2 separate regions of the Homo sapiens genome follow, and region 1 is linked to region 2. The links come from fine-mapping of genetic effects on gene expression. A gene starts in region 2. The other region holds a variant in brackets. All regions are shown on one strand. Distances are from middle to middle.

What was found. PIP is the estimated chance that this variant, and not a neighbour inherited with it, causes the effect.
Region 1: its variant is the best candidate, but not a certain one, in a credible set for the expression of ASB8 in whole blood (INTERVAL, PIP 0.55).

Annotation. Positions count from the first base shown.
Region 1 is chr12:48,039,377-48,042,287 of GRCh38, reverse strand. No RefSeq gene overlaps it. Among named protein-coding and RNA genes, the nearest start is that of COL2A1, 36 kb to the right of the region's middle. The variant T/A (reference allele first, on the strand shown) is at 1,332.
Region 2 is chr12:48,155,961-48,158,871 of GRCh38, reverse strand. ASB8 (ankyrin repeat and SOCS box containing 8) reads left to right here and starts at 1,357. Exons shown (of 4, transcript NM_024095.5): 1 at 1,357-1,413. RefSeq lists enhancers at 1,177-1,396, 1,427-1,476, 1,497-1,546, 1,051-1,573.

The DNA of each region.
Region 1 (2,911 bases), 120 kb after region 2:
CCAGCTTTTAAATATGTCTTGCTGGAGTAAGAGAGAGGACTGACACCTGGGGTTTCTTTTTGTTTGGTCCACCTGGATGGACTAGCATGAGGTGGAATATGATGCTTTCACCCTGGGAGTTCACATACCCAAGAGAGTCAGAAAAAGAGGTGTTAGGCTATTAGGCCCTATTGTTAAACAGGCCACGTGCTGAACTACTGGGAAGGGTACCTTATTTTCCCGCCCAGGAGCAATGCATCTACAGCTTGGAATTCCATGGGAAGGGACAAGGCTCATCCCAGCATCCTTTATTATAAGTCTAGGGCCTTGTTTTACCTGTACTGACTCCTAACATCTGTCTACTAAGAACACACACTACCATTCCCAGCTTTGAAGGTGGAAAAGGAAACGTGGGACAGAGGGTTATGCTGGTCACCTGTTAAAATAAAGGATACCTTACACATACTTCCTTTGTGGGAGAGAAAAGAGTGGCTAGGAGGCTTTGAGCTGGGACCTCGAGGAAATGTTATTGTGAGCTGTCTCTTTGGCCTGTCAGGGAGATGGTAGGGATAATTCCAATTATGTGAATGGTTGGACCACGTGTCCAGGGGTCTTATCAAACTCTAAGATTCTGGAATGGTATTAAGTGCCACAATGTTGCTGGGAAGAGGAAGTCAAGGCAGAGATTCAAAGTTAAATTTTTAAGGCCACTGGCTTAGCACTGGCTTGGTTTTAGAGTTAAGGCGACAAGACCTTAGCTGCAGAATTTTCTCCATTCCAATCTAAGGAGTAGCCATCAATTCCTTACTTCTGGAGATTGCCTTATCCTTTGCAGAACACAAGTGCTAGGAAAGGAAAAAGTGTGGGAGAGTGGCACACAAGAAGTCCAGAGTCCAGTCCACTGGAGACCCCTCATTCAATTTACTTTTATTCTTTTCACAAATACCTACTGAGTAATCGTACGCAAATCCTATCTCTTTGATGCCTTCCCTGATCACATGATCTTAATATCTCTCATCTGGACATCTGCAGCCCTTATAATCAGAAAATAATATAAGTCCACATGGTATTTGTATTGTAATTCACCTTTTGCATCATGAATGGACTGAGACATGTAGCCACCAAGGGCAGGTAAATGATTTGGTGCTTTTTTTTCAAACCAGGAATAAAAGCTGTTTCTTTCTGGCCTGCCAGTGATGAGGTAGAGGTAATTATTCAACATTTATTTAGAAAGACAACATTGTGGGCCAGGCATAGTGGCTCACACCTGTAATCCCAGCACATTGGGAGGCTGAGGTGGGAGGATCCCTTGAGCCCAAGAGTTCGAGATCAGCCTGGGCAACACAAAAATT[T/A]AAAAAAAATATATTGTGAAGAAAGGAGGACTGCTCATGGCAGCCTGCAACCTCCTTTGTGGTCCCAAATCGTTCATCTCTGGCCTCAAACCTAACGCTCCACTCTACCCTTAACAAAAACACCTTCCTCAGCATTTAGCATGCTCTTTGGGGTGGGTGGGGGTTCTCAGTCTCTACCAGGGGCCTTGTGGAAGTATTTTCTCTACACAGCTTTCTGTTAAATAGTTTCCTCCATCCTTTTTATTTCCGGTGATATTGTGCATCCCTCATAGACTGAGACTCTGAGGAAGCCCCTCAGGCTAGGTGTTTTACAAGCACGTGTTTAAGCACTGGCCTTAGTCGCCCTGAAGGGTGGAGTGAAAAGATGGTTTGACTATGGAAATAAAAGCCACCTTGTTCTCAGGTTTTTATAGCCTGCTGACCTTGTCCTCAGGATCTTAGAGTCTGTATTAGAGTCTGTAGACCTTATAGTTAACTAATTTAGGAAGCTAAGCAAACACCAAGCAATATACCTTATCAAGAAGGCAGACTCATAGGCATGTAGTTCCATACAGAACTAGAAGTAGAGGATGAAGGGGCAAAGGTGGAGGTAAGTCAGGGATAATGTTGCCTTTATCTGCCTATCTATATGATTCTTCCTAATTTTTAAAAAGTTGACTTATTTAAAATAAACTGTGGATCTTGCTTTCTTGCTTTGACTGGAAACTCCCTGGTAAAAAGGACTTGATGGTGTTTGTCTCTCTGTCCCCCTGTCTCTGTGGCTGTTTGCTCTGTCTCTGTCTGTGCCTGTGTCTCCCGATCCAAGCTGGACCAGTGATTGGATCCTCGGTGTGGTCTGGATTTCTGAGTCCACCCCTTACCCAGGAGTCTGAATACTGTTCATTCATTTATTTCATCCCATATACCTGGAAGTGAAGCCTGGAACGCAAATAACATGCAAATTTGTGGCTCTTTGGCACTTTAAAAAACCAAACCTGTCTGTGGAGGCTGCCAAAGAACTTTCCTGAGGCCAAACACACCAATCAGGACTTCCAACCCACCCTGCTAACTGTGGCCTTCTGTTCTTGCTCCTCTCCTGCACCCCTTTCTTCTCACAATATAACTTCGAAGTGAAGTGCTTGCCACTTTTCTACCTGTAAAACTCACACTCATGACAGTAAAACATAAGAAAGCACCAACTTCTCAAAAATCTATTATTTTGGGGGAACAGTTTTCTCTATGTTGGGTTAGAAGATCCTCTTCTTGTCCCCAGGATGTTCTCAAATTCTAAGGTTTTCTTTTAGTCATGGTTAAGACTTTGAAGCCAATTGAATATGGAGTGACTAGGGAAATCTTCAAGCCACGTTCGCTCTCCTGATTCCTGAATGTGGTTAAAAATAGCTGACGAATGCCTGGGTCTGCACCAGGTATCACCAGTCAGGCAATAGACTGTCCCTGCGAATGGGGACCTGGACCTAACCATGGGTCAGAGTCAGCCTTTATCCCAAACCACTCCCTGGGTATCTGGTCTAGTCTTGGGCTCTGCAGAAAGTTACAAAGGGAAGGGGGTGGGGTGCCTGTTCCTTGAACCCCAGGAAAAA
Region 2 (2,911 bases):
GACTCATGCCTGTAATCCCAGCACTTTGGGAGGCCGAGGAGGGTGGATCACCTGAGGTCAGGAGTTTGAGACCAGCCTGGCCAACATGGTGAAACCCCATCTCTAATAAAAATACAAAAAAAAAATTAGCCAGGTGTGGTGGCAGGTGACTGTAGTCTCAGTTACTCAGGAGGCTGAGGCAGGAGAATCACTTGAACCCGGAAGGCTGAGGTTGCAGCCAGCCGAGATCACGCCATTGCACTCCAGCCTGGGTGAGAAGAGCGAAACTACATCTCAAAAATAAATAATGATGATGATAATAATAATAATAATAATAATAATAATAAAAACATTGCCAACATTTGCAACTTGGAAAAATTCACTTTTTAAAAAAAATCTGTATTTCAGCTTCTTTTGAAAAATGGACGATCTCACCATGGTGCAGTGGCAGGAAGTGGAGGGCATATTCCTACCTGGCAAAATTCCTTTGAGTCTGGAGCTCAAAGGAGGCCCACTCCTCAGACCAGGTCATGAACTTTCAGTTTACCATCCTCTTACTGATGTACATGATCTGTCTGGGCCTGCTTTAAATCTCTAATTGGTTAGATTTGGTTGCTTAGAACAAGCTCTGGGGAGTAGGTGTGGGGCACTCTGGTTAAACAGGCTACCGGGCAGACCACAACTCTTGCAGTCTGCCTAAATGGGCTGCTGCTTCACTCCTTCCATGCACCACCACCATGTGCTGCTGACTTCAAAATGTTTATGCTTTGCACAGAAAGTCTGTCACTCAGAGGTGTCATCATGTTTTTGTGCGGGAAGTTTCATTAACCCTAATAAGAGTTATAAAGGTCATTTATTCCTCTACATTTAGAATACTACACCTCTTGGGTGGTTGAGTTTGTCTTTGATATGGTTTACTTGAAGGAGGGTGGACATGTACAGGAGGGTTCTAAGGAGCATAGATTCGTTCCACCATTATGAATAATGCTGTAAGTATTTTTGTCAAAGACACTTCCTACTAAGAGTTTAGTCTCCTAAGCAACTGAACCATTGTGGATGGACCCCTGCTGGCCTGGTCCACGCAGGTGCAACCATATAGAATCGGCCCAACACTCAGGGTTCCTGAGCTTTTTTATCCCCGCTGCAGGACCAAGACCCGAACCCTGCGGCTGTGGCCGAGAACGCTGCACTGAGCCTGCGCGCAAAGCCTCTGAGTAAAAGGAGAAAGTAACCCCCTAACTAGGCCTCTGGAGGGCGAAAGCTGCTGCACAAGTCTGCGCAGGCGCGCCCCGCTGACGAACACTCATCAGTGCGCAGGCGCCCATCTTAGTTGGTCTTCTAGTCCGGTAAACAGAGGGCCTGCCCCCGACAGCTTCTGCTTCCGGGTCACGCCTTGACAGCGGCTTTCAACCCCCACCTCAGCCCAGCAATTCGGTGAGTGCGGTCCTTGGAGTGGGTCTACAGCCAGGTTTCCTAACCCAGGGTACCACGCCCAATAACGCTTCCTCTACTCCCTGGTCGAAGTGCTCTAGTTCTCGAGGCTGAGACTTATTTCCGGGCCTTAGAAGGCAGATCGAAGAGGGGGTTGGTCCGCGTCTGAGGCCCCCCAGCGCAAATTGCGTGATTCTCTTTCAGTACCGGACCTACCGGGATTGCTGCGATCTGTTTAGAGCCCGTGCAGAAAGTGACACCGCACGTCCTTGCGTTTCGTGCCCTTGCCCCCCGCCCCCTAGCCTCAGCGAGACAGCTGCCGCGGGCCCTCCCGCAGCAGGTGCGGTGGGGATTACGGGCGCTGCAGGCTCGGCCAAGGTTCTCCCGGGGCGGGAGGGGGCGGGGCCGAGGCCTCCCTCGCATCAGAGCTGTTGTGTCTTCTCTTTTCCAGTTTGCTTTTTTTTTTTTTTTTTTTCAGCTTCTCAGTAAGTGCCCTTTGGTGTTTTCTCTGGATCCCGTAGCAAAAGAAAACGAGGGAGACAGGGCTTTCAGCTCTAGCAGAGGAAAGGGCCTTCCAAGGGGATCAAACCTTACACGGGCTGCTGTCTAGTGAGATCGAATTTAGCTTTCCTTGACCATTCCTGAAGTGAATGCTGTCTGCCCTGAAGTTTCATTCCTTTACCGGGAGCTTCCAGGCAGCAGCAGACCACTGACCATACTCTCAGGAGTTCTTAGCCCAGAGCCCAAGAGCGCCCGGGAAATTAGTTCAGGATTTAGTTTCATCCGATTATCATGGCCCAGAAATGGTTAACAAAACGACTTTATTTATTTATTTTAATTTTTGAATTTTTTTGTAGAGACGATTGGGTTTTGGGGTCGTCTCGCCATGTTGCTCAGGCTGGTCTTGAACTTCCAGGTTCAAGAGTTCCTCCTGCCTTGGCCTCCCAAAGTGCTGGGATTACAGGCAACAGAACCACTTTGGTCCAAGCCTCCTGCTTTAGATGCTCTGTCTTCTGCTGCCATTCTTGGAATTACCAACTCAAATGCACTTGTCTTTTTTTTTCCTTGAAACAAAAAAATTATAAGATACAGATACTTGTCTCAGAGCAGTTTAGTGGCTACTGGAGAGATTAAAACACATGCCAAATCTAAACTATCTAGAAAATGTCATAGAGACATATAAACAAGTGTGTCAGCTTATCCGTGCATGATAACGGGAGAAAAATACCTAATTTGAATTATCGATACATATGAATATTTTTACTTGCATTCTTTTAATGGAATTTACATCTACTATAAATGGCTACTGATTCACAAAATAGAAACTATCAGAATTTATAGTATATAATATATAAAGGGATACACAATCACAAAAAGCAAAAATAGGCCGGGCATGGTGGCTCATGTCTGTAATCCCAGCACTCTGGGAGGCCAAAGCAGGTGGATGACCTGAGGTCAGGAGTTTGAGACCAGTTTGGCCAACATGGTGAAACCCTGTCTC